4 linked regions of the Homo sapiens genome follow. The protein of the gene in region 1 interacts with the protein of each later gene in a pairwise test. Each region holds a gene or a part of one and is shown in the gene's direction. Other genes may lie near its edges.

Region 1 (7,746 bases):
CGGGGGACAGGTTTTAATGGCTTTGTGGCCGTGGTCATAAAGCGAAATGTGCCTCGTGGCTAATGTCCAAGTTGCTGAGCATATACTTTGAGACCAGAGCGGGTGGGTACAAGTGTCTTCTACATAGCAAAAGATGGACCAGAAGCTTGGAAAGGTAATGCTATGATAGCATCAGACAAACCTTAAAGAGGTGTGGGTGCACCGTGGGCAAGTGAGCAGCAGCACTGTGTTTGGGATACTTGGTGGGGGGTGCAATTTAGGTATTTTCCTGAAACCTTATCTGTTGCCTAGTCACAGCACACCCAGCTCATTTCAGGCAAGGCTGGCATGCTCAAGGATTTCCGCGCAGAGCTCATTTGTTAGCGTTGAGGTTGTCCGTGGAGCTGCAGCTTTAATTTGCTCTATGATAATGAGAGGTGCCTCTGGGTGGATAAATGTGGGCTCCAAGTGGGTGATGCTGGGCGGTCTTCTGAACAAGAAGTTGGCTGGGGTGGGGGTGGGGGCTTACTTTCCAGCTCAGGGGAGGCAAGGAAGCCTCAGTCCTGAGAGCCTGGACCAGCTTTAGAAAACTGCCGCTGAGCGAGACCCGATGGCCCTCTTCTTGCTCTGGCTCTCAGTTCATGAATGCATATGACTCCTATCTCTGCTGGGCGCATTCGCAGGTGACCCCGCACGCTGGGCCTCAGACTCTGGAGCTACGTGGGGTCTTGGCATCGTGACCCAGCATCAAGGACTCTCCTAGTTCTCTGTAAAATGATCTTGTCTGTGCGTGTGTTTCTCAAACCCCTTTCCCTTTATCTTGTCATTTTTATTAGTAGTATTTCTACTCTGGAATCTGTAATGAGCACATTTCTATTGCCATAGAGGAATTTGGCTAATTTTTTTTTCTTCCTGATTTCCTTAGAAATCCTAAGTAATGCACTGAAGAGAGGAGAGATCATTGCAAAGCAGGGAGGAGGTAGGAACCGCTTAGTTTGATGTTTTGTTTTTTTAGAACAGGCTGTTATCGCTGGGGACTGTAGAGCTTAGTGGTGAGAAGTGCGGGTTCTGACACAGACTGCCCGGGGTGGGAGCAGCTCTGCCTTTTTCTAGCTGTGTGACGTTTGGCAAGTCACTGAACCTCTCTGTTTCTCATAGCACTCATTTGTAAAATGGGGGTGTAATAGTACCTGCCTCAGGGATGCTGTGGAGAGTGAATGCATGTGAAAGAGTGCTTCCGCACGTGCTGTGCACAGGCCGACCATCTTCATTGTTAGAGTACCTCTCTTTTGGGGGTTTTGTTTTCCACATTATAAATTCCTAAAAGTAAATATATTTTCCTTAGACTTGATGATAAGACTGAAAGCACACCACCCAACAAGTAATAAATGCTTGTAAAATAGATAAATGTACTCATTAGGAAAATATGAAGAAAGTATGGTCTGAAACCCCATCGCCCAGTGATGACTGCCGGAAACATTTTGTTCTGAATCTTTCATTCATACACAGCTTTATGGATACTGAGAACAAAATGTACTTTTTGAGCATTTTTGGAGACAGTCTCGCTCTGTCTCCCAGGCTGGAGTGCCGTGGTGCAGTCTCTGCTCACTGCGGCCTCAACTTCCCAGGCCTAAGCGATTCTCCCACTTTAGCCTCCCAAGTAGCTGGGACTACAGGCGTGTGCCACCTGGTTTGGCTAATTTTTTGATTTTTTTTGTAGAGATGGCATTTTGACATGTTACCCAGGCTTATCTCAAACTCCTGGCCTCAAGTGACCTGCATACCTCCAGAGTGCTGGGATGACAGATGTGAGCCACCACACCTGGCCCAAATGTACTTTTTCAGCCTGATTTTCCCTCTGAGTATCTTGGCATCTCACCTCCTGACTTCTGTGTTGGGCTGGCTCTGGAGCTCCACGCTGGTACCATTTCCTCCCATTTCTTTTTTTTTTTTTTTTTTTGAGAGACGGAGTCTCACTCTGTCGCCCAGGCTAGAGTGCAGTGGCACGATCTCGGCTCACTGTGACCTCCGTCTCCTGGGTTCAAGCGATTCTCCTGCCTCAGCCTCCCAAGTAGCTGGGACTACGGGCGCACGCCACCATACCCAGCTAATTTTTGCAATTTTAGTAGAGATGGGGTTTCACCATGTTGGCCAGGCTGGTCGCGAACTCCTGACCTTGTTCCGCCCGCCTTGGCCTCCCAAAGTACTGGGATTACAGGCATGAGCCACCACACCCAGCTGCCCCACCTCATTTCTGATGCCTTTGGGCAAAGTGCCCATTCTCGCTAGGTTCCTTATACTGTGGGGAAGTTCTGAGACGTCTCCCCTCTGAAAGTCACACATTCTTAGAGTCGGGCCTGCTTTGGCCGCTCACTGTGTGCTGTGCAGCTAGAGAAGCAGGCGCGGTGTGGCCAGTTACAGAGCCAGTTAGAGAAACTGCCCAGTTTCCTCTTGAATTGGTATCTTTGACTAGGCTGCTTGGGTCGGTCACAGGCTGGCTCTGGGCTGATGGCCACTCTCAGAGGCAAGCGACAGGGTTTCGGGGAGGAGCCCCAAACTCGGCATGTGGAAAGGGGTGGCCTTGCTGACGGAGCCAGACCCTGCTTTCCAGAGTTGCAAGCACCACGGGTGGGGGCGTCCCTTCGTTCTGCTGACTGACCCCCAGCCGCTACCAGAGCCCACTCTGCAGTGCCATCAACATCTTCTTTCCAAAGCCAGCAAGTCATTTGGTTTCCCTGACAATAGGGTCCCCAAAAGTGGCCAGCTGTGTGCATTTGTACACAGAGGATCTCTCGGTGTGTGTTTTTTTGACCTCTGCTTGATGGTGTGGCCGAAAATCCTTTCTCTGTGCCCTGGGAGCGCTGAGGAAATGCAGCCAGAGTGGCCCCCAGCAGAGCATCCTAGAGGGACAGGCTGGGAGGGGAAGGTGGGAGTGACTCCGACTTGTCTCCACATAACTCCTGTTCATTACCCTGGGTGGCCCCCCGAGTGGGGGGTGTCCATGCCTCCCCCTGGAGCATTTCTCAGTGTCTGCTGATGGAGAAACCTCAGATGTCTCAGGAATTGACGTCCATGGTTCACAAAGCTTGTCACAGACACTAGCACCTCACAGACACACATACAGGGGTGTTCTTTAGAAGTTGTGTTATGGAAATCTCAGCTGTGGCATAGAGCAGAGAGAATGCTGGGAGGCCCCCATGTGCCCACCACACAGCTGTAGCTGTTGTCAACATTTGAGGGGTGTCTTAATGGTAAATTATGGTGGGCCTTTACCCCTGATCCATGCCCATGAGCTGAAGTGGTCTGGCGTGTTGTGCACACGCACACTCAAGTTCTTGACACCCACCTGTGTTTTGTGTCCCTGTTTCAGGTGGAGGTGGAGGAAGCGTCCCTGGGATCGAGAGGATGGGTCCTGGCATTGACCGCCTCGGGGGTGCCGGCATGGAGCGCATGGGCGCGGGCCTGGGCCACGGCATGGATCGCGTGGGCTCCGAGATCGAGCGCATGGGCCTGGTCATGGACCGCATGGGCTCCGTGGAGCGCATGGGCTCCGGCATTGAGCGCATGGGCCCGCTGGGCCTCGACCACATGGCCTCCAGCATTGAGCGCATGGGCCAGACCATGGAGCGCATTGGCTCTGGCGTGGAGCGCATGGGTGCCGGCATGGGCTTCGGCCTTGAGCGCATGGCCGCTCCCATCGACCGTGTGGGCCAGACCATTGAGCGCATGGGCTCTGGCGTGGAGCGCATGGGCCCTGCCATCGAGCGCATGGGCCTGAGCATGGAGCGCATGGTGCCCGCAGGTATGGGAGCTGGCCTGGAGCGCATGGGCCCCGTGATGGATCGCATGGCCACCGGCCTGGAGCGCATGGGCGCCAACAATCTGGAGCGGATGGGCCTGGAGCGCATGGGCGCCAACAGCCTCGAGCGCATGGGCCTGGAGCGCATGGGTGCCAACAGCCTCGAGCGCATGGGCCCTGCCATGGGCCCGGCCCTGGGCGCTGGCATTGAGCGCATGGGCCTGGCCATGGGTGGCGGTGGCGGTGCCAGCTTTGACCGTGCCATCGAGATGGAGCGTGGCAACTTCGGAGGAAGCTTCGCAGGTTCCTTTGGTGGAGCTGGAGGCCATGCTCCTGGGGTGGCCAGGAAGGCCTGCCAGATATTTGTGAGAAATGTAAGTGGCTCTTGGGGAACTTCTTGGTGGTGGTGAGCATGAGGGGACAGGGGAGGCAAAGATCAGCAGGATGAAGTCAGAGGTGGCGCCCTTCAAAGGGGACCACACCTCCTTGCCACTGTCCCAAACGTTTTATGCTAGTGGGACAAGTAAGGAATGTGAGAACTGTGGGTTCTGGAAGAGCCTGGGCTTCTCCACTGTGCTAGAATATGGAGCAGACGCTGAGCTCAGAGACTCCAGTTTCTGATTGGTTGGCTTGAAGAGGCACTATGTGTTGCACGATGGTCCAGGGAAAGAAGTGGCTGTAACGGAATTATTTTCCCCAGCTCAGCCACCCTTAGCCACTATTTAGTGACTGTGGGCTGCGCACCGCAGGCCTGAGTGTCCCATCCTGCACGGTGCTCCCACAGGCAGAGCCCCAGGGAGGGAGCTGGCTGTGCCGCTTCACAGCCTTGTCCCACATGTATCTATTAGTTTCCTGCTGATCGCCTCAGTCTGAAGGGCAGCCAGCTTCTCGGTATAGTGAGAAATCTAGCATGGCCCTCAGAGCCAGCTGCAAGGCATGCCTTAGGATTTGGTTTAATCACGCATCAGTCTCCCTTTTCTTCTCCCCTTCAGCTGCCATTCGATTTCACATGGAAGATGCTAAAGGACAAATTCAACGAGTGCGGTAAGTGTTGGGAACGGCTTTGTAGGTGCTTCCCTCGTGCTTGTTGGTGACGCAGCCGAGTCAGCAGCAAAACCTCCCTCCCAGCCCCCTCCGTCGGCTCAGGACCCATGGCCTTGCCATGTTCTGCCCACGCCAATGCTCAGGCAGGTTGTTGAGTGTCCTGTGATGTGTCACATGTTTTTCAGCTGTGTTCTCATTTCATCCTTACTTCCTTTTTTCTTTTTGAGTCTTTGAAACAAGGTAGTAGTGTCCCCATTTCACAGATGAGTCAGGCAGAGTCTTCCTTCTGAGGTTACCTGGCTTCTAGGTGGCAAGGCTAAATAAATACATCCCAGACGAGGTCGCTTTCCCCTCAGCACAGCTGGTGTGGGGCCTCGGAGAGAACACAGCCCAGCAGGTGCCATGGGGAGGCGGTGCAGGCTCTGGGCACACAGCAGCTCCTGTGAGGGTGAGGCTAAGGTCTTGTGGTTTCCTGGCACATCGGGCAACTCTTCTGGAGGGCTCTGTCTGTGGCTGAAAGCAAGTTGTCTTCCTTCCCTGCCCTCCAGGGTGAGCCCCCACCCCGCATGCACCACCTCTGTTCTTTTTAGCTAGAGGGGCCTGAGCTAGAGGTCTGGGCAGCTGCTTCCGCACTGTCCTCCCGCTTCCTGTTTCAGCAGTGGCTCCGATTTCACCACCATTGCTGCTTCTCCATGGTTCTTGGGGCAAGCCGTTGAGTCATGATCTGCCTCTTTGCTCCATTCTTCACCTCTTTCCCCACTCCTGAGTTCCCATGTTGTAGCTAGATATTCTGAAAAGGCCAGTGGGATCACAGCGCCCCCAGCCCCCACTTTTGCAATGCCTGGAGCGGCCCTGTGCCTTCAAGAGGAAGTCCAGACTCACAAGCCCCTTGAAGACCTGGTCCTATCCTCCTCCATCTCCCTCCTGTCCCAGAACCTGAGCGGCAAGTGCTGCACGTGTCCCGCAATGCTCTCGTGTGAGCCAATTACTGGCAAGTCTTCTTTCTGGTGAATTTCTGTGTAAGCTCACTCAGAACTTGCCCCTGAGGACCCCTCCACCCTACCTGCCCTGGGCCCTCTCTTAGGCACTGAGTTCCCACCTCTGGCATTGTGGCCCTACCACCTTTGGTACTCCTGGAGTAGAGCCTTTGCCCTCTAGGGCTCTGTCCACGGCGTTGACACATATCTGGATGCTTAACGGGTGCTCAAATGAATAAGTGAAACCTGCTGGCTTTCATTTGGACAGTACAGACGTGTCCATTGGATTGCGGATGGCTTTGTAACCAGGGGCGGTGGCATATCAAAAATGAAGACTTTGTAAAATGTATGGGAACTTTCTGCCTATAAAGCTGGCTTTACACTGCGCCTTCTTTTTTGAACTTCCTGAAGCGTAAAGGCGTGCATTGAATCCGCCAGGAAGGCTTTTCATGGGGCAGGGGCAGGCTCTGTTAGCAGAAGAATGGCAGTGTGGCTGAGGGGGCCGTAGTCATTGGTTCTCGCCATTGTATTCTGAGCCTTTGTGCTCTAGGCTTCAGGGCCTCTCCTTTTTGACTCTGTCCACCAAAATCTAACAAAATCGGGACTGAGTGTCGTCTCTTCTTCCCTCCCTGTCCTAGGCCACGTGCTGTACGCCGACATCAAGATGGAGAATGGGAAGTCCAAGGGGTGTGGCGTGGTTAAGTTCGAGTCGCCAGAGGTGGCCGAGAGAGCCTGCCGGATGATGAATGGCATGAAGCTGAGTGGCCGAGAGATTGACGTTCGAATTGATAGAAACGCTTAAGCAGTTGCCTTTTTTAAACATCGATACGAGACCTCTGAATTTGTATTTTTTCTTGTTAACCATTTTAATTTGTTGGCTGGATGTATAAAGATGTTTAAAAAATTCAGTTGCTTTTTGGGGTAATTTGAATTACTTTTTTAATGACTGGGGTTCCATTTGACTGTTTGCATTGAGATTGCAATGTGCGCAATTTTTTTTGTAGTTGTGGCATCTTGTTGACATCGAATATGACTTTGATAATAAATACCGGTTCCTGAAAACGGCCTGCTTGTGTGTGCTGTGTGGGCAACCACGCGAGGTGTGGGGAGCTGGGGTCACTCGAGCTTCCAGTCCAAGCAGCAGGGATCTCATCCCCTCTCTTGCTTGTCTGAGGCCCCAGGGGTGGGTGCCTGCCCACAGATGGGGGGAGACTCTTCCCTGGAAACTGCCTTCCTGTGGGCTGTAATCCCCCGGCTTACAATGGAGCGTTTGGCTGTTTAGAGCCTTCTGAGGCCAGGCGCGGTGGTTCATGGCTGTAGTCCCAGCTACTCAGGAGGCTGAGGCAGGAGAATCACTCGAACCCAGGAGGCGGAGGTTGCAGTGAGTGAGATCGCGCCACTGCACTCCAGCCTGGGCAACAGAGCAAGACTCCGTCTCAAAAAAAAAAAAAAAAAAGCCCCCCGAAAGCCATCCTGTCTCCCTGTTGTGAAGTTAACGCCCTGGGGCACAGGCCCTGCCTGAGTCAGGCTTGTTCTCTGGCTTTTTTTTTTTCCTGCTGAAACAGACCAAACTGTGTGCCACCTTCCATGCGTGTTCAGTCCTGCCAGAGGCTCAGGCCAAATCTGATTGATACCTGGGCTCTGTCAGAATTGGGTATAGGCCCCACCCCTTCCCCCAGTGAAGCGCTCTCAGGATCCACTCAGGCCAAGCAGGTGTGCATACCTGGCAAGGAGGCCTGGCTGCTGCTGTTCTGTTGGCTGTGGAGGGGCGCGTCCTGCCCGGCTGCCTGCCTGGTAGCACATGCTGTTCTGATCACCCGGAGCCCCCCTTGCTCACCAGCTTCTTGCCACCCTTTTCTCCCCACTGGCTTTTATCCCTGAGGGGTGAGACCATGGCAGGGTGACCCCAGACACACCCCCTTTTGTGTTTGGTCAGGGGGTTCCCGT
Region 2 (8,404 bases), on another chromosome or scaffold:
CTAACCATCGCACATATCTTACACCATACAAAAATGTAACTCAAAATGAACCACAGACTTAAATGTCAAAATTATGGGTTTTTTTTTTTTCTGTAGGAGAAAACAAAAAAAAATTGTGTTACCTGAGGTTATGTCTTAGTAAGCTCAGGCTGCCCTAACAAAATGCCATGGACTGAGTAGCTGAAACAAAACAAATTTATTTTTTTTCACAGTTTTGAAGTATGGAAGTCCCAGATCAAGGACTGGCAGGGTTGGTTTCTGGTGACGGCCTTATTCCTGGCTTGTAGATAGCCCTTTCTCAATATATCCGTTCTTGGCCTTTCCTCTGTGCATGTGCAGAGAGAGAGAGAGAGAGAGAGCTAGTGCAGGCACACAAGTAATTTCTTCTGTCTCTTCTAACTGCTTATAACCATACTAATCCTATGGGATCAAGGCCCCACCCTTATGACCTCTTTTAATATTAATTACTTCCTTAGAGGCCTCATCTCCAAATGCAGACACCCCGGGGCTGAGGGCTTCAAAGTATGAATTTGGTGGAGGACATAAGCATTAGCAAAGAATGCACACATAGATTAATAAAACAGAATAGAGCTCAGAAATAGACCTGCACACTTATAGTCAGGTGATTCACAACAAAGGCAATAATGGTGAAAGTACAGTTTTTCCAGCAAAAGGTGCCTGAACAATTAGACATCTACAGGCAAATTATAATAACCTAGAAACATCCTTACATATTCCAGAAAAATTAACTCGATATAAATCACAGACCTAATGCAAAATGCAAAAACTATACAACCCTCTATAAGAAAACATAAGAGAAAATTCACATAACTTTGAGTTCAGTGGTGAGTTTTTAAATTCAACACCAAAAGCATGATCAATGAAAGAAAAATTTACCAAGTAGATTTTATTAAAATAAACATCATGTGCTCTTCAAAGGACAATGTTAAGAGAATGAAAACAGAAGCCACAGACTAGCAGAAAACATCGGTGGTACACATATGTGATAAAGAACATATCTCTACAACATACACGAATTCTTAAAGTTCAACGACAGAAAAAACATGAAAATAGGCAAAGATCTGAACACACTCCTCACAAAAGAAGATATACACATGGCAAATAAGCATAAAAAAGTACTGAGAATCCGTTCTCATTAGATAACTGTGTACTAAAATGAGATACCACTACACACCTATTAGAATGTCCAAAATCCATAAAAAAGCAAAAAAAAAAAAAAAAAGAAAAGAAAACCAAGATCAATTGCCAGGGAAGATGTGGAGCAACAGAAACTCTCATTCATTGCTGGTGGAAATGCAACATGGTACAGCCACTTTGGAAGACAATTTGGCGTTTTCTTAAAAAACTGAACACAGCATAAGATTCAGCAGTCATAATCAATTTACCCAATTGACGTGAAAACTTACGTCTACATAAAAATTTGTATACGATTGTATACAAAAGATTATTTCATAATCACCAAAAATAGAAGCATCCAAAATGTATTTCATTTGGTGGATGGATATATATATACACACGCACTATGGTACAACCAGACAATGATACTACTACTCCTCAATGAAAAGGAATAAGTTCTGAGCCACACAAAGTTATACATGACTCTTCAGTTCATTATGCTAGGTGAAAGAAACCAGTCTAAAAAGGCTACATAGTATGCGAGTCTATTTATATGACATTCAGGAAAAGGCAAAATTATAAAGATGAAACACCTATCAGTGGCAGCCAAGGGGGTTATCTGACAAGCACAGGGGATTTATCAGGGCAGTGAAACTAGTATGGTAATACTGTAATGGTGGATGCATGCTTGCTTTCATCTGAATATTTGTGTTCCCACAAACTTCATCTGCTGAAATACCAAGGTGATGGTATTAGGTAGAAGGTGGGGTATTTGGAGAATGACTAGTTCATGAGAGCAGAGTCCTCATGAATGGGATCAGTGTTTTTATAAAATAGACTCCACAGAGATCCCTTGCCCCTTCTTCCATGTGAGGACATAGGGGAAAGGCAACTGTCTATGAACTAGGGAGCAGGTCTCCATCAGACATGAAATCTGCCAGCACCTTGATCTTGGACTTCCCAACCTCTAGAATGTGAGAAATAAAGTTGTGTTGTTTATAAGCCACCCAGTCTACACTATTTTTGTTATGGAAGCCCAAAGGGACTAAGACAACGGCACGAGGCATTTGTCAAAACCCATAGATCTTTACAGCACAAAGAGTGAAGCTTAATGTATGTAAAGTCTAAAAGTAACTTAAGAAGTTGGAGAATCATGGGACAGAATGTAGAATGTTACACACACACACAAACCTAGCTGTATTATACATGTATGAAACCACTACAGTGAAGCAAGTGGCGGGAAAGTTACCATATTTGGGTACTCCATCAAAGAAATATGTTTTTTATAAAGTATAAGTCGGCCAGATAAGCATGTAAAATAGTTGAATATTTGATAATCATTTATATAATTTTTCAGATATGAAAACTATTGGGATTCTGTTTAATAAAACGTCCTTATCTTTTAAAAATGCATATTGAGTTATTTCGAGATGAAATGGTCTAATGCCTTAGATTCGCTCCACGTTATTCCAGAAGCTGATGTGCAGGTAGGCAAGTGTCTAACTGGAACCAGATTTGCTGTGTATTTAAAGTTGTTCATGCTGGGTATCTAGTATCCTGGGTTCATTACATTAGTTCCTATTATTCTGTATGTGTGAAGGCTTTCCCTAGTAAAACTTTTTTTATAATAAATATGCCATTAAAAGTGAAATCCTAAATGAAACTGACCACTTTGTAGAAATAAAATAAACCAGTAACCAAACTGATCCAAAAAGAAAAAGAAAACTTTAATTAAACTATAAAAACTGAAACTGTACAATGTTCAAAGCTCAAGCCACCTTCAAACATTCCAGGTTAGGCAGTATTGGAGGCCAATTCTACCAAATGATCAGGGAAAACTAACCACCATCTTATCTCATCTCTTCTAGAACATACAAAATATTTACAATTGTTCAATTCATTCTTCCAGACTAGCCCTCCTGGATTCAAAAACCAGATGAGGACCACATCCCACCCTTGATGGGAAAAAAAGCACACATTAAGTAAGCTCCCTTACATAGCAGCAAATATCCTACGTAAATTACTAGCATATTAAATAAACAGGCTCTGCCCAAGGAAATAACATACGGTTTAACATTAGGGGAAAAAAAAAAACGGTTTCATTGTAATTCCTTACATACAAAATGGAGGAGAAAAAAATTTGATTGCGTCAACGGGTACAGAAAAAGCTTTTTAAAGAAATTTAATATGAGTTCATGGTAAAAAAAAAAAAAAAAGTATTTAACCTATATTCAAAGAGAAATTGCACTTCCTAAAATCAACAGCAAACATACTTAAATGCAAAACGTTCGAATAATTATCATTCACGTCAGGAACGAGAAGTAGATGTAGGCTATTATCTCTACGATTGAAATCAGGATTGAGACACAAAGAGCTATAAGTACCAAAATGAGTAAGTGGTATGAATACTGGAAGAATATGTAATGTTTAGTGATAATACCATTATCGATCTTGAAAATTCAAAGGAAAAGGTATGTGGAATATTCAAGTGCATCGGCCTTCAGAACGAGGTGTGCAACAGATTACTACAGCAAAATCAAAATCTTCACCTCACGAAAGCAATAACTAACTACAACAATTAATAGACAATATGCCATTTGCAATAGCAACAAAATTCATGAATTGCCTGAAAAGAAGTCTAATAAAAATGTATAAGGTCTTTATAGAGACAACTGTCGAAGTATACTGACATATTCAGGTAAAAAAAACCTTGAAATACATAGAGGAGTATAATATATTCATTCATGGGGAGCACAACACTGTAAAAATGTAAACTCAGCTTAAATTATTTACAATTTAGTGCCTTACCTGTAGCCGCCGCCATTACAACAAATTTGGGCTGCTGTGCTCTGCTTCCCAAATCAAACCTGGAAAATTACAGAATGGAAACAGTAAATAAAAAACCAGTATCAGCAACAAAACAGGGAAAGCCCAGGGTGAGACTCAAGGCTGTGTTGAGCTGGTACTTGTGTTTGACACTTGCAGTGTTGGTTGGAGGGGGTTAGCAGCAGGGATGTTGGGGAGGTTTGTAGCCGGCCTACACGGTAGATGACAGAATGGGTAGAATAAAAGTTTGAAATTTTCCACTTCACTTCTTTGCACAATCTGAGGCAGCCTCTGAAAACACGATGCCAAGAGCCCTAGGTAATAGCAGGACACCAGGAAAATTTGGTTGGTTAAGGCAGTATGACTCCAGAGTTCTGCTAATAACAACCTGAAACCACCATAGTGGGAGAGGAATTACATTTTTTAAAAAAAAAAATTCTTTCAACAGAACACAAAGACTGAAATAGGAGGTCACTACAACCGCGGGAGCTGCCGCCCCGCCCTGCAGGGAGCACCTGGCCTGGGACCCGCAGGCATTCTCTACAAGGGGTGCAGCTGTGCAAATGCTCACAGGTGACAGAAACAGAGCATCTCCTGCCCATCACTTCATCCAACAGCCAGAGGTGACGAAAACGACCCTCCTGAGTGAGGACTGAGGGTCCACACCGCCCCCCCACCCCACACACCATAGAGGGACCACAGAATCCAGCTCAGCCCCTCTTGTCAGCCCTGGTAAACGCAGGCAGTGATGTCACCCAGACCACACCCCTTCCCCCAATGCCACTTCAGGGGGACTCAGAGTCAGAGACTTGGTCTGAGGGGAGCAGAAGCAATCTGCAGAGGATGGCGGTCCAGGCTCAGCCAGGCATCAACTTCAGGACCCTGAGGGATGACCGAAGGCCCCGCCCACCCACCCCCAACTCCCCCGACCCCACCAGGATCTACAGCCTCAGGACCCCCGTCCCAATCCTTACCCCTTGCCCCATCACCATCTTCATGCTTACCTCCACCCCCATCCGATCCCCATCCAGGCAGAATCCAGTTCCACCCCTGCCCGGAACCCAGGGTAGTACCGTTGCCAGGATGTGACGCCACTGACTTGCGCATTGGAGGTCAGAAGACCGCGAGATTCTCGCCCTGAGCAACGAGCGACGGCCTGACGTCGGCGGAGGGAAGCCGGCCCAGGCTCGGTGAGGAGGCAAGGTAAGACGCTGAGGGAGGACTGAGGCGGGCCTCACCTCAGACAGAGGGCCTCAAATAATCCAGTGCTGCCTCTGCTGCCGGGCCTGGGCCACCCCGCAGGGGAAGACTTCCAGGCTGGGTCGCCACTACCTCACCCCGCCGACCCCCGCCGCTTTAGCCACGGGGAACTCTGGGGACAGAGCTTAATGTGGCCAGGGCAGGGCTGGTTAGAAGAGGTCAGGGCCCACGCTGTGGCAGGAATCAAGGTCAGGACCCCGAGAGGGAACTGAGGGCAGCCTAACCACCACCCTCACCACCATTCCCGTCCCCCAACACCAACCCCACCCCCATCCCCCATTCCCCATTCCCATCCCCACCCCCACCCCTATCCTGGCAGAATCCGGGCTTTGCCCCTGGTATCAAGTCACGGAAGCTCCGGGAATGGCGGCCAGGCACGTGAGTCCTGAGGTTCACATCTACGGCTAAGGGAGGGAAGGGGTTCGGTATCGCGAGTATGGCCGTTGGGAGGCAGCGAAAGGGCCCAGGCCCTCCTGGAAGACAGTGGAGTCCTGAGGGGACCCAGCATGCCAGGACAGGGGGCCCACTGTACCCCTGTCTCAAACCGAGGCACCTTTTCATTCGGCTACGGGAATCCTAGGGATGCAGACCCACTTCAGCAGGGGGTTGGGGCCCAGCCCTGCGAGGAGTCATGGGGAGGAAGAAGAGGGAGGACTGAGGGGACCTTGGAGTCCAGATCAGTGGCAACCTTGGGCTGGGGGATGCTGGGCACAGTGGCCAAATGTGCTCTGTGCTCATTGCGCCTTCAGGGTGACCAGAGAGTTGAGGGCTGTGGTCTGAAGAGTGGGACTTCAGGTCAGCAGAGGGAGGAATCCCAGGATCTGCAGGGCCCAAGGTGTACCCCCAAGGGGCCCCTATGTGGTGGACAGATGCAGTGGTCCTAGGATCTGCCAAGCATCCAGGTGAAGAGACTGAGGGAGGATTGAGGGTACCCCTGGGACAGAATGCGGACTGGGGGCCCCATAAAAATCTGCCCTGCTCCTGCTGTTACCTCAGAGAGCCTGGGCAGGGCTGTCAGCTGAGGTCCCTCCATTATCCTAGGATCACTGATGTCAGGGAAGGGGAAGCCTTGGTCTGAGGGGACTGCACTCAGGGCAGTAGAGGGAGGCTCTCAGACCCTACTAGGAGTGGAGGTGAGGACCAAGCAGTCTCCTCACCCAGGGTACATGGACTTCAATAAATTTGGACATCTCTCGTTGTCCTTTCCGGGAGGACCTGGGAATGTATGGCCAGATGTGGGTCCCCTCATGTTTTTCTGTACCATATCAGGTATGTGAGTTCTTGACATGAGAGATTCTCAGGCCAGCAGAAGGGAGGGATTAGGTCCTATAAGGAGAAAGGTGAGGGCCCTGAGTGAGCACAGAGGGGATCCTCCACCCCAGTAGAGTGGGGACCTCACAGAGTCTGGCCAACCCTCCTGACAGTTCTGGGAATCCGTGGCTGCGTTTGCTGTCTGCACATTGGGGGCCCGTGGATTCCTCTCCCAGGAATCAGGAGCTCCAGGAACAAGGCAGTGAGGACTTGGTCTGAGGCAGTGTCCTCAGGTCACAGAGTAGAGGGGGCTCAGATAGTGCCAACGGTGAAGGTTTGCCTTGGATTCAAACCAAGGGCCCCACCTGCCCCAGAACACATGGACTCCAGAGCGCCTGGCCTCACCCTCAATACTTTCAGTCCTGCAGCCTCAGCATGTGCTGGCCGGATGTACCCTGAGGTGCCCTCTCACTTCCTCCTTCAGGTTCTGAGGGGACAGGCTGACGTGGAGGAACAGAGGCCCCCGGAGGAGCACTGAAGGAGAAGATCTGTAAGTAAGCCTTTGTTAGAGCCTCCAAGGTTCCATTCAGTACTCAGCTGAGGTCTCTCACATGCTCCCTCTCTCCCCAGGCCAGTGGGTCTCCATTGCCCAGCTCCTGCCCACACTCCCGCCTGTTGCCCTGACCAGAGTCATCATGCCTCTTGAGCAGAGGAGTCAGCACTGCAAGCCTGAAGAAGGCCTTGAGGCCCGAGGAGAGGCCCTGGGCCTGGTGGGTGCGCAGGCTCCTGCTACTGAGGAGCAGGAGGCTGCCTCCTCCTCTTCTACTCTAGTTGAAGTCACCCTGGGGGAGGTGCCTGCTGCCGAGTCACCAGATCCTCCCCAGAGTCCTCAGGGAGCCTCCAGCCTCCCCACTACCATGAACTACCCTCTCTGGAGCCAATCCTATGAGGACTCCAGCAACCAAGAAGAGGAGGGGCCAAGCACCTTCCCTGACCTGGAGTCTGAGTTCCAAGCAGCACTCAGTAGGAAGGTGGCCAAGTTGGTTCATTTTCTGCTCCTCAAGTATCGAGCCAGGGAGCCGGTCACAAAGGCAGAAATGCTGGGGAGTGTCGTCGGAAATTGGCAGTACTTCTTTCCTGTGATCTTCAGCAAAGCTTCCGATTCCTTGCAGCTGGTCTTTGGCATCGAGCTGATGGAAGTGGACCCCATCGGCCACGTGTACATCTTTGCCACCTGCCTGGGCCTCTCCTACGATGGCCTGCTGGGTGACAATCAGATCATGCCCAAGACAGGCTTCCTGATAATCATCCTGGCCATAATCGCAAAAGAGGGCGACTGTGCCCCTGAGGAGAAAATCTGGGAGGAGCTGAGTGTGTTAGAGGTGTTTGAGGGGAGGGAAGACAGTATCTTCGGGGATCCCAAGAAGCTGCTCACCCAATATTTCGTGCAGGAAAACTACCTGGAGTACCGGCAGGTCCCCGGCAGTGATCCTGCATGCTATGAGTTCCTGTGGGGTCCAAGGGCCCTCATTGAAACCAGCTATGTGAAAGTCCTGCACCATATGGTAAAGATCAGTGGAGGACCTCGCATTTCCTACCCACTCCTGCATGAGTGGGCTTTGAGAGAGGGGGAAGAGTGAGTCTGAGCACGAGTTGCAGCCAGGGCCAGTGGGAGGGGGTTTGGGCCAGTGCACCTTCCGGGGCCCCATCCCTTAGTTTCCACTGCCTCCTGTGACGTGAGGCCCATTCTTCACTCTTTGAAGCGAGCAGTCAGCATTCTTAGTAGTGGGTTTCTGTTCTGTTGGATGACTTTGAGATTATTCTTTGTTTCCTGTTGGAGTTGTTCAAATGTTCCTTTTAACGGATGGTTGAATGAGCGTCAGCATCCAGGTTTATGAATGACAGTAGTCACACATAGTGCTGTTTATAT
Region 3 (8,106 bases), on another chromosome or scaffold:
AACACGAAGGGAATCATTTTCTAAGTTATATAAATATGATGGAATATTTTAAAGCCATTAAGATTATGAAGACTGATAGGAATATGAAAAATAGTGTGAAAAGGGCATTATCAAAAATAGTATGTACATTATTTCATTTGTATAAACGTGTGCTTTCAGATTAGAACTGAAAAACTCTGGATTATAATTTTATTCAGCAAACGTATATTGAATCCCTATTTTATACCTAGAGGTGGTGACAGTGTCTGCTCTCAAGTTGCTCACTGTTTAGTGGGAGAGACAGACTCTGGGTGATAAGTACAAAGAGGGATGAGCTGCAGTAGGATTTGGGGGATATTCTTCCACGTTTTGTTAAAGTGTTTTAAATACTACTATGTCATTTTATAGAATTACTAAGAAAGCTTTACTATTGATATTAATGCACCATAATATAATGCCTTTCAAATAGTTATTCATACATATTTGCTTAATGAATGAACAGAATGATTAATGAGTCATTAATAAGTGTTACTTTCCTAGCACGGTTGTAATTTAATAACATTAATCTAGAATTCTCTTAATGTGAAATCCATATTGCTGGCATCAGAAACAACTTTAAATGATCATTTTCCAAAGTTTATCTGAGACTTCATTCTGCAAATGTCTCATTTGTTCACTGGACTTAAGTATTGTATTTGATAATCTAGTTTTGCAAACCACAACTTACAAATCTTTTTGGGGGTAATTTATTGATAAACAGTTCCATTGGAAAATTCCCTTTCTGTATCTAAACCTTATAAATGATCACTTTTTAAACAGTTTGTCATGTATGCAGTATAATATATAGTATACTGTATAAAATGTTTTATACTACCCCAAATCTGTAATAATGGGTTAATAAATTATGATATGTAAAATAATTCTACAAAGACTTTTTGAGTGTGGAAAATGCCCACAAATAATGCCAGGTTAAAAAGAAAAAAGTTACCAGGAAAAGGTATATGTACATATTTAAATATGAAGACACCTGAAAAAAAGCACCAAGATGTAAATCGTGGCTATCTCTGGGTGGTGGCTTATAGGCAATTTTAATTTTCTTTATACTTTTAGTATTTTCCAAATTCTTGATACAATGTATCTCTTTTATGACCAGAAAAGAATATTCAAATGCCATTTTTTTTTTTTTTGAGACAGCCTGTCTCCCAGGCTGGAGTGCAGTGGCAGGATCTTGGCTCACTGCAGCCTCCACCTCCCAGGTTCAAGCGATTCTCCTGCCTCAGCCTCCCAAGTAGCTGGGATTACAGGCATTTACCACCACGCCTGGCTAATTTTTGTATTTTTAGTAGAGATGGGGTTTCACCATGTTGGCCAGGCTGGTCTCGAACTCCTGCCGTTAAGTGATCTGCCTGCCTCGACCTCCCAAAGTGCTGGGATTACAGGCATGAGCCACTGCACTCAGCCTCAAATGCCATTTTTTAAAAAACATAAAGGCTTATCAAATACATTATATTAAACACATGTTATAGTGTATGACCATTATCCAGAACAGGAAAATGAGGCACAGAATAACTAGGTTTCCTATTTTAGCGTAGGCCTGGAATTGTAATTGCTATTTCAGTGCAGAGTGTATAATATAGTTGGGATTATATTGTTAGACATTTTATAGATTTCCTTTCTGTTTTTGTTGTGCTTATTCTTTCCTTGCTGTTAGTTCGTATTGCTATGGGCATGCTCTTACTCCTCATCTGCCTCTTTTCCTAATTTGCTGTTTTAGATTTGCTACGACTAAGGAACCCAGAACTGAGGTTGACAGAATACTATGTAAAAAGAAAAAACAACAACAACAAAGACCTTAGGCGGGGTGTGATGGCTCACTCCTGTAATCCCAACACTGGGAGGCTGAGGTGGGAGGATCGCTTGAGCCCAGAGGTTCTAGATCAGCCTGGGCAATGTAGTGAGACCCCATCTCTAAAAAGAAAAAAGTATAAAAAACAAAACAGGTGGGGCGCAGTGGCTCACACCTGTAATCCAAGCACTTTAGGAGGTTGAGGTGGGTGGATCATCTGAGGTCAGGAGTTTGAGACCAGCCTGGCCAACATGGCAAAACCCCGTCTCTACTAAAAAATACAAAAAAATTAGCCAGGCGTGGTGGCAGGTACTAATCCCAGCTACTGGGGAGGTGGAGGCAGGAGAATCACTTGAACCCAGGAGGTGGAGGTTGCAGTGAACCGAGGTTGTGCCACTGTACTCCAGCCTGGGTGACAGAGCAAGACTCTGTCTCAAAAAACAAAACAAAACAAAAACAGAGGCCAGTGTAGCCTGCCCAGTGGGCTTTAGGGCAGTTTAGTTTTTCTGCTGCTTGTTGGTTGTTTTGGTTTACTGTTGGGTCCTCAGCTATTTCCTCAGTATTGATGTTGCAAGAAGCATGACCCTGGGAGATGTGAGACATTACTGCATTATGTATTAAGTAAATATTTTCAGAGCTGGGCTAGCTCCCTCTGCAGTGTTTTGACGAGGATGGCACTACATAGGTTGTCCTTGTGTTGAACCAAACTATTTTAACTCCATTTTAAATGACTTCATTTTTTTCCAAGTATAATTATTCATGGCACGTAAAGGAAGTATTGTAATTTAAGTGAACAGAATTAAATAGAGGACAGTTGTATATTTAATATAAAATTATTACTCATGTAAATTTGCATTAGGTATACTTTTTAAAGTTATTCAGTATTTTATATAATGGGCATTATTTGCTGAATAATTATAAAAAACTACTGTCTATTATATTCAGTAATTTGTAATTACATGACTTTTGTTTAACAAACATTTTCAGTGTGAAGAGTAGTTCCAATTGTGTACAAAAAAAAGGATGGTGCTCCATGCAAGCTGTATATTGATTATTGATAGCAGGACTTTTCAGTTACTGTTTCCACTGTGATAGACAAAGCTGGTTATGGTGTAAAACTGTTCTTTGCATATTTCAGATACTTTGTTCCACAGCTAAGAAAGTGTTTTCCCTTCCTGTTTTAAGCATTCTAGTTTTTCATACTTAGATGTGGCAGAGCTTACTTAGCATTCCGAGTAGATGCAGCAGTTTGATAGCTTCATCAACATTTATTGCAGCAATAGTGCAGTGCCTGTGACTTAAAACTAATTCATAACCTTCAGGCTTTTTTTTTTTTTGAGACGAGATCTCGCTGTGTTGTCCAGGCTGGAGTGGCAGCCTGCCTTGACCTCCTGAGCTCAAGTGATCCTCCTGCCTCAACCTCCTGAGCACCTGGGACTACAGATGTGCACCACCACACCTGGCTAATTGTTAAAATTTTTTTGTAGAGATGGGATTTCACCATGTTGCCCAGGCTGGTCTTGAACTCCTGGGCTCAAGCAATCCTCCTGCCTTAACCTCCCAAAGTGCCGAGATTATAGGGGTGACCCACTGCACCCAGCTTAGGCTTTGTCGGAATGAAGCAAAACATGGTGTTTAGAGAGAGAATGTGGAGGAAGGAACGTGATGCCCTGTCAGTGAAACTGAAAGTTGAATGATAGCTCATGGAAAGAGGAAGTGAAAAAGGTAGGATACATCCAAGTGATTGAAATATGACAAGAATGGAACAAAAATTTTTTCAAACAAAAACATCTCTTATTTTATAAATAAAAAGGTTCATAGTAAAAGCTAAACTATGTCTACAAAATATCTATTATAGGCTACTGAATATTGAAATGTAAATGAATTTCTTCTAATATAGCTAGAAAAGGTTATGGTAAATTGCTAAACAATAAGGGACATTATTTATATTCATTTCTTAGTAAGATTCCACTAAAATTAAGATTAGTCACTTTATGTAATTGCTTAACATCCATTTAAAAACTATAATTTGGAAAAGCTACGGAATTTTTCAAAACTTATTTATAAAAGTGGTTTGGTGTCTGGGGTGTGTGTGTGTGTGTGCGTGTGTGTGTGTGTGTGTGTGCTGGAGAGAGGGAGAAAGAGAATTTATAATACTGCTATCTGGTCTGGTAGAAATGGCACTAGGACTTTGGAGACATTTATGTGTTCATTTGTTCAACCAACATTTTTGAATGCCTACGACTGCAGCTATGAACTTTTACTTAGCAAGCATTTTTTTTTCCCCCCGAGATGGAGTCTCACTCTGTCACCCAGGCTGGAGTGCAGTGGCACGATCTCGGCTCACTGCAACCTCCACCTCCTGGGTTCTAGCTATTCTCCTGCCTCAGCCTCCCGAGTAGCTGGGACTACAGGCGCCCACCACCACACCCGGCTAGGTTTTTATTTTTAGTAGAGACAGGGTTTCACCATATTGGCCAGGCTGGTCTCAAACTCCTGACCTTGTGATCCGTCCACCTTGGCCTCCCAAAGTGCTGGGATTACAGGCGTGAGCAACCGCGCCCGGCCGCAAACATTTATTTAAATGATCACAAATTCTGTGCCTTATTGTCTGTTGGAATAATCTTATGATGTGTACCTCAACAGGTGTTTTGAAGGATAAATGAAATAATGGTTGGGAGCTTTTTGAGTTCTCTAGGTGCTAGATATAAAGAAGCTATAATTTTTTTTAATTGAGGTGAAATTCATAAGCAAAATTAACCATCTTTAAGTGAACTTAACACAGTGGCTTAACACAATCTTATGCAACTACTGCTTCTGTCTACTTCCCAAACATCTTTCCATCTCAAAATATAACCCTGTGCCCATTAAGCAGATATTCTTCATTGCTTCTTCCCTCTAGCCACTAACAATCACCAACGCACTCTCTGGATTTACCAGTTGTAGATATTTAATATGAAAGGAATCATATAATATGTGACCCTTTGTGTCTGGCTTCTTTCACTTAGTATGTTTTCAAGGTTCATCCATTTTGCTGCATATATCAGTACTTCATTCCTTTTTATGGCTGAATAATATTCCATTGTATGTATATACCATAATTTGTCCAATGATAGGCATTTGGGTTGTTTCTGTCTTTTGGCTATTGTGAATAGTGCTGCTGTGAACATTTGTATGGATGTATTTGAGTACCTGTTTTCATTTCTCTTGGGTATATACCTAGTAGTAGAACTGAGCAAGGTCATATGGTAGTTATATTTCAACTTTTTGAGGAACTGCCAAACTGTTTCCATAGTGACTGTACCATTTTACCTTCCCATCAGCAATGTATAGGACATTCCAATTTTCCCATAACCTCATTAACAGTTGTGTTTTCTGTTTTTTTTGTTTGTTTGTTTTGTTTTTTTGTTTTTTTAATACTCATCCTTGTGGGTATTAAGTGGTTTCTAATTGTGGTTTTGGTTTGTATTTTCCTAATGAATAATGATATTGAGTATCATCTTTTAATGCACTTTTTGGCCACTTGTAGATTTCTTTTTTTTTTTTTTTTTTTTTTTGAGATGGAGTTTTGCTCTTGTCTCCCAGGCTTGAGTGCAATGGCGCAACCTCAGCTCACTGCAACCTCCACCTCCTGGGTTCAAGTGATTCTCCTGCCTCAGCCTCCCTAGTAGATGGGATTACAGGCATCCACCACCATGCCCGATTAATTTTTTTGTATTTTTAGCAGAGATGGGGTTTCACCATGTTGGCCAGGCTGGTCTTGAACTCCTGACCTCAGGTGATCTGCCCGCCTCAGCCTCCCCAGTAGCTGTGATTACAGGCATCCACCACCATGCCCGATTAATTTTTTTGTATTTTTAGCAGAAATGGGATTTCACCATGTTGGCCAGGCTGGTCTTGAACTCCTGACCTCAGGTGATCTGCCCACCTCGGCCTCCCAAAGTGCTGGGATTACAGGCCTGAGCCACTGCGCCTAGCCCATTTGTAGATCTTCTTTAGAGAAATGTCTATTAATATCCCTTGCCCATTTTTTAATTGGGTTGTTACCAACTTCTTTTATCTAATATTAATTATATATGTATATAAAATATATATATATCCTTTCCGTATGTGTGGAGAGAGAGAGAACGTGTGCACTCAAGCACCAGAGAGGAATGGGTAGAAATACGTATCCCCAGTGGGATTATCTTCCATATATATATATTTTTAGGCTTTTTGGGCTTTGCCAAAATTTAAATTGTTGCTTCCTTTGAGTGATAGGTTCTTGGTGAGTTGATAACAGCATGATGCTGAAGCTTGATTTCTTTGTTGGCCAGTGAGTCATTCCATTCCATGAGCAGCTGTTTTACAAGTGCATGCAGTTGGTTAAAGGGGCACCTGTTGGATTTTTGGCTTGATCATTGCCAGTCCATTTACACTGTGAGAAAAAAGTAACTTAGTGTTCAAAAATGAAAAGACCTGTCATTTTAAACATGGGGGATCTGTAGCTACTTCACTAGTATGAGATGTCTTTGTTGTCATATTGACACCCCTTTTATTTTTTGTCTTAGTCATCACCAAACTGTAACTTACAACACTTAGTGCCCTTCTAGGTACATTGCATAAAGCTTTGGTTGATTTTTGCATGGGTTTAACAGTATTCAAAAGTGTTCAATATTCAGAGTATTCAAAAATTTAACATTATTTCAGGAGTAGTTTTGCTTAGGTTCTTTGTTTAAATTTATAGATTCTTTTGTAATATGTAAAATTCCTTTTTCCTCCTTGTTCACTAACAATGTAGTGTTTGTTTTCAGTTACCATCAGAGTTAAGATTCTTATTGTGGTTTACTGTTCTCTGAGATTTTTGTGTGGTGTGAAAGTTTCTCTGTAAAAGTCTAAGAGTTTTTCCCCCTTTTAAGAAATAATTTCTTAAAGCCCCCAAGATTATTGTTTTGATGATTCAGAACTATAATCAACTTTACTATACAAAGTCCTAATCTGTAAAGATTGATTTCATAGGTTCTCTGATTTACAGATCTCTGAAAAACTAATAGGGTATAAAATCTAGGCTCTCTCTCCTATTAGTACTGAACACACTATAAAATTCCTTGTTGTTTACTAGGATTGCTCATTGTGGGCTCTGTGGTTAGGCTGTATTTATTCCTCCAGGGTCTCACTTTTTTTTTTTTTTTTTTTTGAGACAGAGTCTTGCTCTGTCACCCAGGCTGGAGTGCAGTGGCACTATCTCGGCTCAGTGCAAGCTCTGCCTCCCGGGTTCACGCCATTCTCCTGCCTCAGCCTCCCCAGCAGCTGGGACCACAGGTGCACGCTGCCAAGCCCGGCTAATTTTTCTGTATTTTTAGTAGAGACGGGGTTTCACTGTGTTAGCCAGTATGGTCTCAATCTCCTGACCTCATGATCCGCCTGCCTCGGCCTCCCAAAGTGCTGGGATTACAGGCGTGAGCCACAACGTCCAGGCTAGGGTCTCACTTTTATTCAAGTTAGTATTGCCTTATTAGTTGTTTCCCCAGAGAAGATAGTGACAGGGATCAATTATAACTAAAATAGTAGTTCTCCATATGTATCATGAATCAAATTTTGTGTGTGGAGACCTTGTGGGGATTGCAGTGGGCATGGGGCAGAGATCTCAGTTAATTCTTACGCCGTTTATATCCTCTACTCCATTTCTTGAGAGCCAAATAAATTAGTAGATCTTCTTCTAAATGGCAAGATATTAGAAAATATGTTAAAACTGCATTAGGAAATATCTACTAGGAGTTTATATATGAAATAATGAGTTTTGGCTGAAAGTTACAGAAACTCTTTTCTATTCATATACAACTTAAAAATACTGGAAATTCTTTTGGTGTGAAATTTTTTATATTTGCCAAAATAATATTTAATTTTAATTTGTATAAATTCATTTCACAATGAAAATTCATATCTGAGCATTTCTAATGACTCAACAAGAGAACTCTCACTTTTCCACTTTAAACAACCATTAGTAATTTTTATAATAAAGTTTGAGAAAAAGAAAAGATAATTTGAGGTTTTTTTTTTAGTTGAGAAGAATGCGTAATTTTTTAATAAATTCAAAGGGTGAAATAAGGTAGGCAATTTTAATAAGCCTCAGAATTTTAATTGTATGGCAGGAGAGTCTGTCTACTTTTTCTCTAGGATTTGTACTTAAATTTTTTTAATGTTCTAAGCTTTCTCTTCTTTCTTTCTCTATCTCACTCTCTTTCTCTCTATTTTCTTTTATTTCTCTTTTTTTTCTTTTCTTTCATTTTTTGAGACAGGAT
Region 4 (8,106 bases), on another chromosome or scaffold:
CACCCCCTACCTGCACCCAGGATCTTGCTCTGCCCAGGCACCACATGATGCCTCTGGCTCTGAGATAATACAAAGGGTTTCAGATGAGCCTTGAGTGAGAATGGATTTCTGGAGGTCATTTTAGCCAGCTCCCTGCCTCCAAATTGCAGTGTACCTCAAGCACCCTGGGCAGATGTTTCTTCTGGTTTCTGCTAGATCTGTGGAAGAGAGCTCCAGATGCCCCTCCATCCCCAGCCTGTCCAGCCTAAACAATATGGTGCCCACTACCATGGAGCTGCTGGGCTCTGGGGTCCATTACAGCACAAGCACATCCACTGGTGTCCTAAGCAGCCACCTATTCTTGTCCTACCCAGCCCATAGCTGTCTTTCAAAAGCGACGTTTCTGCTCATGCATCTGCACTCCACTCCCTATTAAGAGGAGTCTGGCCTCCCATAGTTCCAGGAAACCTTGAAGATGGCATCTTCAATTGGGGGAGGGAGAAAGGTTCTGGATGCACTCATCTGCTCCTCCAAACCAACCACCTATCTTCTTCTTGAACGCTTCTGCCCTCTCAGCAGGTGGCTATCTGAACTGGGTGGCAGCATTCCCCCACCCCCCGGCTCCCCCAAAGGGTGCGTTCCCTGCATACGGCACCTTTTGTCTGGCTGCAGCAGGGACTCAGGGCTGCTATTAACCACCCCCAACGCCTTTTCTCCACCTGACAGCATCTTGTCTGGAGAGGCTGGGGCTCCTCTGGTTGAAGTCGGGTCTGCCAGCTGCCGAGGACCAAAGCTCCCGCTCTGCTGGGCTGCAGGGCTTTCATGTTGCACTTCTGAAAGATAATAAAATATCAATCGTTTTGCCGTAGCAACGGGTTTAAGAGACTTTCTGAAGTATTGAATCGTCAGAAAAAAAAAATTTTTTTTTGCTTTTAAGCACAGTGCATTATTAATAAAGTAATCCATTAGGTCGAGCAGTGAAGGGTCACCACAGAGACGGAAAGATCTGTTTTGCAAACGGTTAAACTTCGGGTTTTAAGATTAATTGCTTTCATTTGGATGCTTGCTCTTGGCCTAGCCATCTCCACTTTACTGGAACTCAGGGTCCGGGCTTTCTACATGCTGCTGGGTCTGCCTGTCAGCGAAATGGAACTGAGCTCCAACTTTCCCGGAGAAACAGCCCTTCTTCCCCTGGCACCTGCGGCTTGGGCTGGCACCAGGTGGTGAGCTTTTTGGGAGGGTTAAAATCCCAAGGGAGCAAGGAGAGCTACAGCTCTGAATGCTACCCAAGTCAAATGAGCCCCTGGGCTGTTCGAGAAGAGGCCTTTGAGTAGGAGCAGACAGCAGAGAGTCTGAGAGGGCCCAAGAACAGTGAGAGCTTTGGTCTGTGGGGGACTGGGCAGGAGAGGAGGCTGGGGCATCCAGCTGGGGATGCTGGGATGCTCTCAGGTGCACACAGGAGAAGGGCAGGGCTGGGTATAAACGGCCTTTGCAAAGGCCCAGCAGGAAGGTGGGGGTGACCACAGGAAGCAGCAGGCGGGTTGTGGAACTAAACACCAGACATGATTCCTAGGGCATTTTTAATAAGTAAAAATGCCCAAGAGAGTGAAGCTGGACTGAGGAGGACCAGACAGCGGAGTCTTCAATTGTTAATGACTGCTAGGAGCACAAATTCCACAGCCGACTCAGTTAATCCACCAGAGCCGGCGCATGGCTATGCTTGGGTACCAACCAGCCCTTGCTGGGCCACCAGTAGGATTTCCTAGGATAGACACTCATGTTCTAGACCACAGAGAATCCCAGGGGCCTCTCCTGGCAGAGTGTGCTCATGACCGTCCCAACCCTGGAGAGGGAGGCAGGCCCTGATGCTGTTCCATGCCAGAGACCCCAGCCCATCAGCAGGAAGGCGGAGCCAAGTGGACACTGCTGCCTGCTGAGGCCTGGTAAAGGCCTTGTGAGTCTGGCAGGGTGGGGACCAAATTGTGCACTTGCCCAGTGCCTAGAAGCAGGGGAGCGGGAGGGTTACCATCTGCATCTACCATGACCAGCCCCAGCGGCAGCCCTCCTTTCTGCTGGGAATGAGGCATCACATCCTGAGCTGCACATACAGCCGCTTCCCCTTCCTGCCCAAACTTAGCCAGGCAGAGTGTCTGTAAAGATGGGTAACCCGCCCCCCAACCCCACACACACACCCGAGCCTTGGGTGAAGAAGCAGGTGCTTCTCTCTGTTCCCTGCTCTTCCATTCATTTGCTCACACAGAGCAGCACTAAGGGGGGACAGGGAAACAACATAAATTGGTCTGTCGTCCGGAATCCATGTCTCGCTAATGTACCCAGATTAACTCAACTGTAAATTGTCTCCTTGGATGGCGGTGTCTTGCTAAAAGTTTCCCATATGATTCATGATTTGGATTGCTTTTAACGGCTATTGGCTAAGCAAGCCAGTGACTGTACAAGGTGATGCAATTGGCATTAGCGAGGGGAGGCACGGGAGCGTGTAATGCAGTCAATACTGCATTAACTACTGATGCCCAATTACAGGGAGCAGGAGAGAGCCTTTCAGGAGCATTAGGACTGGGGGAAGCTGAGATCACTGGCCGCTGCTCGCCTAAAAGCTTCACCCTTTGGATGCCGGGGCTCAGTGCTGGCATGACCACTCACTTGGCCTCTGTGGCTGTGGGAACTGCCTTTTTCTCTTGCTGTCTGTTTCTGAACATGTCCTCAAAGATGCCTTTAGCACATGAAAATGTATGTTTCCCTAGAGCTGGGACCCGCTTCTCATCCCTCCCGAGTAATTGATTCCTTACCCCCACCCTGTGTCACCCTGTGTCTCAGAGTCAGACCAGGCAGCTGCCCCATAAGCTTCCATTTAAGGAACTTCACAGCAGGCTCTATTTGTGGGCAGGACCAAGAGGAGGTCTATTTTGGTCTCTCAACCTTGGAACAGATGGATGATTGCCAGTGAGCACTGGCAGTTGACTCCCTGTGGTCATGGGCAAAGGAAACACGAGGTTCAGCCATGGCCCAGGGCGAAGCTGCCAGAGTTGGGAAGTGGCCATGGCTAGACGGGCTGGGCTGTCTGAGCAGAAGACAGAGCCGTGATGGTGCAGCTAGGGAAGGCTGGGGGTGAGTGCCTTGAGCCACGTTGGGGTCTAGAGCAGATGCAGGCCCAGGGAGTTAGGAGCTCCCTCCAGAGCTGTGCCCCCATATAGCAGGGAGGCCAAGGCTGTTGTTGGATCCATCTCCAGGGTCCAGAGGGCCTCCCAGAAAGCCCTGATCAGGGACATTGAGAAGATTGGAAGATGTTAGGGCAGAAGGTAGAGGTGTCCCAGTGTGCCAGGCACTGTTTGACTTGTTGCCACCTCTATCATTGCACTAAGCTATGTAGGTCCAATATGTCCACTGTGATTTTGTGTTCCATGTCCACCCAGTGTAGAGGTTGCTTTGCTTCCAAACCTTTGCCTCTCTACCTTCTCGTCTCTACAGTGAGAACAGCCATATCTAATTGGCAGGATTGTATTCAGGATTAAGTGAGGTACTGTCCATGTACACATTTGATAAGCCAGAAAGCCTCATGGCTGTGTGGAGCAACATTGCTCCATGCTCAGTTACAGTATGATCTGAAATAACTCTGTGTCCAGTCCAGTGCTTTGTTTGCTGGCAAGCACTGGGCCTGCACCCTCACTCTGCCAGTTTATTTATCATGGTCCTTAATCATTGCTGCCTGGGAGGCAGGCTGACCTCACTACTCGCCCACGTCCAGATCACCAAGACAGGTGGCACCTTGGGAAGAGGTCTCTAGGACCACTCTTTGCAAGTTCCTCCATTTATAGGGGGAAGGTTGAGGTTTAAACAGGGCAAAAGGGCTGCCTAGGGTTCCATGGGGAATTGGAGCCTAGAGCATCAGCATCTTTTTGCCATGCCTTCTGCCCTAGCCCTGAGGCGTGATGAGGCTAGGTGGTAGAAAACTCTGATTACAGCAAACATCAGCTGGACTGGGACCACGGACCACGTGCTTGGGTGTCCCAGTTATGCCCCTTGCCAGCCTACTGACAGCCCAGAAGATGCAGTTCTATCCTCAGATGTAAGGTGAAAGGTGCTGAGGGACACTCACCTGTCCTGGGCCTTTGGAAGTGGAGAAGCCCCAGAGGTTCCTATGGCATGTGTCCCATCTTGCTTGCCTGTCCTGTCTGGAGTTGGAGGACACTGAGACATGCAAGGTGTCCTCCCATTTCCAGGCTTAGCTCTTTGTGGTGCTGCTAGAGTGAGTTTTCCCAGCAGGCCCATATTTGGGATTGGACTACACCAGTGGAGTCAACTTGTCCTGGCTTGCAAGAGATTCTGTACATCTGTTCCCAACTCTGAGTTCAGAGACACTGCATTGGTAGCTTGAAGTCAGCCACAATGGGAGTATTTGTACCATGGATGTTGGCAAACACTACAAATCAGGGCATTTTCCCAAAGACTTGGTCGTTAAGCATGCATCAGCACACCACTGGATTGCATTCATCTGGGACTCTGGACCTACCCTTTTCTCCTCTGCTACCACCATTCTCATCTCACCTGCTATCTTTCTTGTGGTGCTCATTACAACCAGTCTGACCCAACCTCTGCTACCCTGGCATCCTGCCTGAGGCCTACTGCTGCTTTGACCATCACACTAAACTATGCAGGTTTAGTATGTCTGCTCTGGTTTTGGGTTCCATGAAGACTCAGCATTTGCCTCTATTCCCTTGTTCCTATGTCCTCCTTGCCTGGCATGCCCTTTCTCCTTTAGTTGGCTGAGGCTTCTCCCAGGCCATTCCAGGCCATGCTCAGAGACACATCCACCAAACCTAGCAACAAGCTTGTTCGCTACTGGTGGGAGTGTGTTCGTTTTGTGTTCTGTCCAAGGCAGGAGTTCACAGTAGCTGATACAACTGGGGGCAAATTAAAAGCAGGTGGTGTGAGAGGAGTGAGCAGATTGGTCCAGGTCGCAGAGGCAGCTGCCCAGTGTGAAGGCCCATGGGCTCAGGTCACTAGCTCCTCCCTCCTGTCCCTTCCCCTGGAGGTCAACTGGGCTTTCTTGAGTGGCCTCCTGTCTACAGGTGTAGTCCGCTAGCATGATTCAGAAAACCTGGGTTTTGTCCCAGCTGACTGCTGTGTGACTTCAGCGCACTGGGCCTCAGTTTTCTCATCCCTACAAAGGGTGAAACACCTAACTGGCACTTTATGTCCAAGCACACACTTGATAAACCAGAAAGTTTCATGCTTGTATGAATTGACATTGCTCTCTGTACAGTTACAGTATCATCTTTTGGCTTTGGCCTCTCAGTCTTTAGGAGTCATAAAACACTATAGCTATCATTATACTGAACCCGTACTTAAAAGTGCAGCATTGGCCGGGCGCGGTGGCTCACGCCTATAATCCCAGCACTTTGGGAGGCCGAGGCGGGAGGATCACGAGGTCAGGAGATTGAGACCATCCTGGCTAACACGGTGAAACCCCGTCTCTACCAAAAATACAAAAAATTAGCCGGGCGTGGTGGCGGGCGCCTGTAGTCCCAGCTACTCAGGAGGCTGAGGCAGGAGAATGGCGTGAACCCAGGAGGTGGAGCTTGCAGTGAGCCGAGATCCCGCCACTGCACTCCAGCCTGGGCGACAGAGCGAGACTCCGTCTCAAAAAAAAAAAAAAAAAAAAAAAAAGTGCGGCATTGTGCTATCTGTATGTATCAATTAGTTATTGCTGTGTAATCAGTTACCCTAAAATGTAGAGCCTTAACACAATAAGCATTTATTTAACTCAAAAATCTGTGGGTCAGTGATTTAAGCAGGGCTTGGCTGAGCAGTTTTTCTGGTCTCAGCTGGGCTCACTCACATCTGGAGGATGGAGGATGGCTGATCAGTTGGATGCTGGGCGTGACAAGACTGCATGGCCCTCATTAGCCAGAAGGCTTGTCCGACTTGTTCTTATGGCAGAGACCGGTCCGGAAGGTGTGGAAGCACAAAAGCCTTCTCTTTTTTGAGACATCTCACTCTGTTGCCCAGGCTGGAGTGCAGTGGCACAATCACAGCTTCCTGCAGCCTTGACCTCTTGGGCTCAAGTGATCCTCCCTCTTCAGTCTCCCAAGCTGAGACTATAGGTCCATATCACCATGCCTAGCTAATTTTCGTATTTTTTGTAGAGATGAGATTTCATTACGTTGCCCAGACTGGTCTTGAACTCCTGGGGTCAAGCGATCCACCTGCCTCAGCCTCCCAAAGTGCTGGGATTACAAGCTTGTGCCACTGCGCACCACCACACCCAGCCTACACAAGGCTTCTTGAGGCCAAGGTTTGGCACTGGGATCTTGTCGCTTCTGCTGCATTCTATCGGCCAAAATAAATCACAAGGCCAGCCCAAGTTCAAAGGGTGGAGAAGCAGATTCTGCTCTTGAAGGTAGGAGGTGAAAAGTCATATAACAAATGGTGTGGCTGTGGGGAAGGGTAGAGAATTGGGGCCATTTTTGTAATCAGTCCACCAAGCATCTTCCATGTATAATCTCATTTAATACCCATAAGAACCTTAGGAAGAAGCTACTATTACCCTCATTTTACAGATGAGAAAATTATTGTACAAAGAGATTGAGTAATTGGTTCCAGCTCCCACAGCTCAAGAATGCCAGGGCTGGGCTGTGAACCCAAGCAGGCTGACTGCAGAGTCAGTGCGCTCACTCTCTCTGCTCTGTCTGCTCCCTTTTCCAGCTGTCAGACGTGGGGATGGAGAGAAAGACACTCAGAGTTCAAGGAAGGGTGACGAACCTGTGAGAAGATGACTTGGGGAGGGAGGAAGGTTGCTGTGGGCAGTTTGAGTGGGGCTGCCATGGGAGCCCAGCTCCATTCCTCCCAGGGCCAGCCTCGGTGGGGAGGGACCATAATCAGGTCAGTCCCCGTTGCCTCTTTCAGGTTTTCCTCTCTGTCCTGCAAAGCCACTAGACGGCTTGAAAGGATGTGATGTTCTGTGTTCCCTGAGCTGACTTAGACCTGAGCATATATGCAGATGCAGCCAGGTGAGAATCAATTCATTGGTTGGCCCCTAGCCTCAAAATGGGGTGGTAAGTGGGCTGGTGAGAGGCCTGTGTACATTCATAAACCAGCTGATTGAAAAGCAATATTTCAGATAAATACAAGCCAGCGATCTATCAGTGGTTGTAATAAAACCCAGGCTTCAGGCTGTGATTTTATTTTGAAATAATAAGAATTGCTTGATTCTTTTTACTTGAGTTACCATGGTAATTCCGGCGTGGAGCAGTGTTATATTGATTTAGAAAGTGGACAGTAATATTTCTTTTGTGTTATTCTGTTTCTAGGCCTTGATTTCTAATTTCCACTTGGAGATTACTTTTATAAATTTCTTAAGTCCTTCCACTTTTTTTTCCTCTCACAGTATAATTTTCCTCTCATACGCCGCTATGTTCTGAGCTTATTGGTTTGCTCTTATTTTAAATTAAACTTGCTGGTTTCAAATATTGAAATGACATCTTTGTCTGTGTCTGTACTTTGGTTTAGCAAAATATTACAGTCTGACGCATTCTGCTTAATAATTTAGGGGAGGCATTCTGTCGGCCCTCACTGGGTGCTGATAACTTATGACTCAACCAACGCAGGCCTTAAACTCCTGACATTTTAATATTGTGTGGCGGGAGTGGCTGCCCCTCTTCTCTGAGTCTCGGCGGGGAAAAATTCGTGGGGTACCCCAGAAAGGAGTTTTAATAATTCAACTTTGCTGGTTGGCACGGTGACTTGATAGAGAGCAGGAGGGAGACCCACTCTTGCCAGACAAGTGGGAGCAGTGCTGGCCTGGGCTCCTACAGTCCTGCTCCATCCTGCGTGTCCTCTCCCCTCGATCTTTAAAAACCCCAATCCTGACGACAGTATCCAGGAAGGACTGTGTGGGGCTACCTGCGGGTGCCATCAGAATGTTCAAACTCTCTGATTCTCAGTTTTCCTATTTGTAAAACAAATAGGAAGTGGGCTTTGAGTCACACGGGTTCAAATCCTGCCTCTGCTGCTAAGTCATTCTGATGAGTAAATTCTAATAATAATTCCAAGTAGTAAAATGGGTATGATCACGTTTACCTTTTAGGTCTGTTGAAACTTGAACAGGCA

What was found.
Region 2: the proteins of HNRNPM (region 1) and MAGEA6 interact in binary tests that used the Homo sapiens proteins (3 or more experiments, as listed by UniProt).
Region 3: the proteins of HNRNPM (region 1) and AKAP9 interact in binary tests that used the Homo sapiens proteins (3 or more experiments, as listed by UniProt).
Region 4: the proteins of HNRNPM (region 1) and LMO1 interact in binary tests that used the Homo sapiens proteins (3 or more experiments, as listed by UniProt).

The regions. Positions count from the first base shown.
Region 1 is NC_000019.10:8,482,254-8,489,999, forward strand, and holds the end of HNRNPM (heterogeneous nuclear ribonucleoprotein M), read left to right. Parts: intron 1-904; coding exon 905-958; intron 959-3,349; coding exon 3,350-4,152; intron 4,153-4,770; coding exon 4,771-4,822; intron 4,823-6,437; coding exon 6,438-6,601; 3' UTR 6,602-6,861; downstream 6,862-7,746. UniProt on the Homo sapiens protein: Pre-mRNA binding protein in vivo, binds avidly to poly(G) and poly(U) RNA homopolymers in vitro. Involved in splicing.
Region 2 is NC_000023.11:152,766,416-152,774,819, reverse strand, and holds the start of MAGEA6 (melanoma-associated antigen 6), read left to right. Parts: upstream 1-5,130; 5' UTR 5,131-5,166; intron 5,167-6,894; exon of another isoform or gene 6,895-6,958; 5' UTR 6,959-7,024; intron 7,025-7,104; 5' UTR 7,105-7,169; coding exon 7,170-8,114; 3' UTR 8,115-8,404. UniProt on the Homo sapiens protein: Activator of ubiquitin ligase activity of RING-type zinc finger-containing E3 ubiquitin-protein ligases that acts as a repressor of autophagy. May enhance ubiquitin ligase activity of TRIM28 and stimulate p53/TP53 ubiquitination by TRIM28.
Region 3 is NC_000007.14:91,943,247-91,951,352, forward strand, and holds part of AKAP9 (A-kinase anchor protein 9), read left to right. Parts: intron 1-8,106. UniProt on the Homo sapiens protein: Scaffolding protein that assembles several protein kinases and phosphatases on the centrosome and Golgi apparatus. Required to maintain the integrity of the Golgi apparatus. Required for microtubule nucleation at the cis-side of the Golgi apparatus.
Region 4 is NC_000011.10:8,253,377-8,261,482, reverse strand, and holds part of LMO1 (rhombotin-1), read left to right. Parts: intron 1-8,106. UniProt on the Homo sapiens protein: May be involved in gene regulation within neural lineage cells potentially by direct DNA binding or by binding to other transcription factors.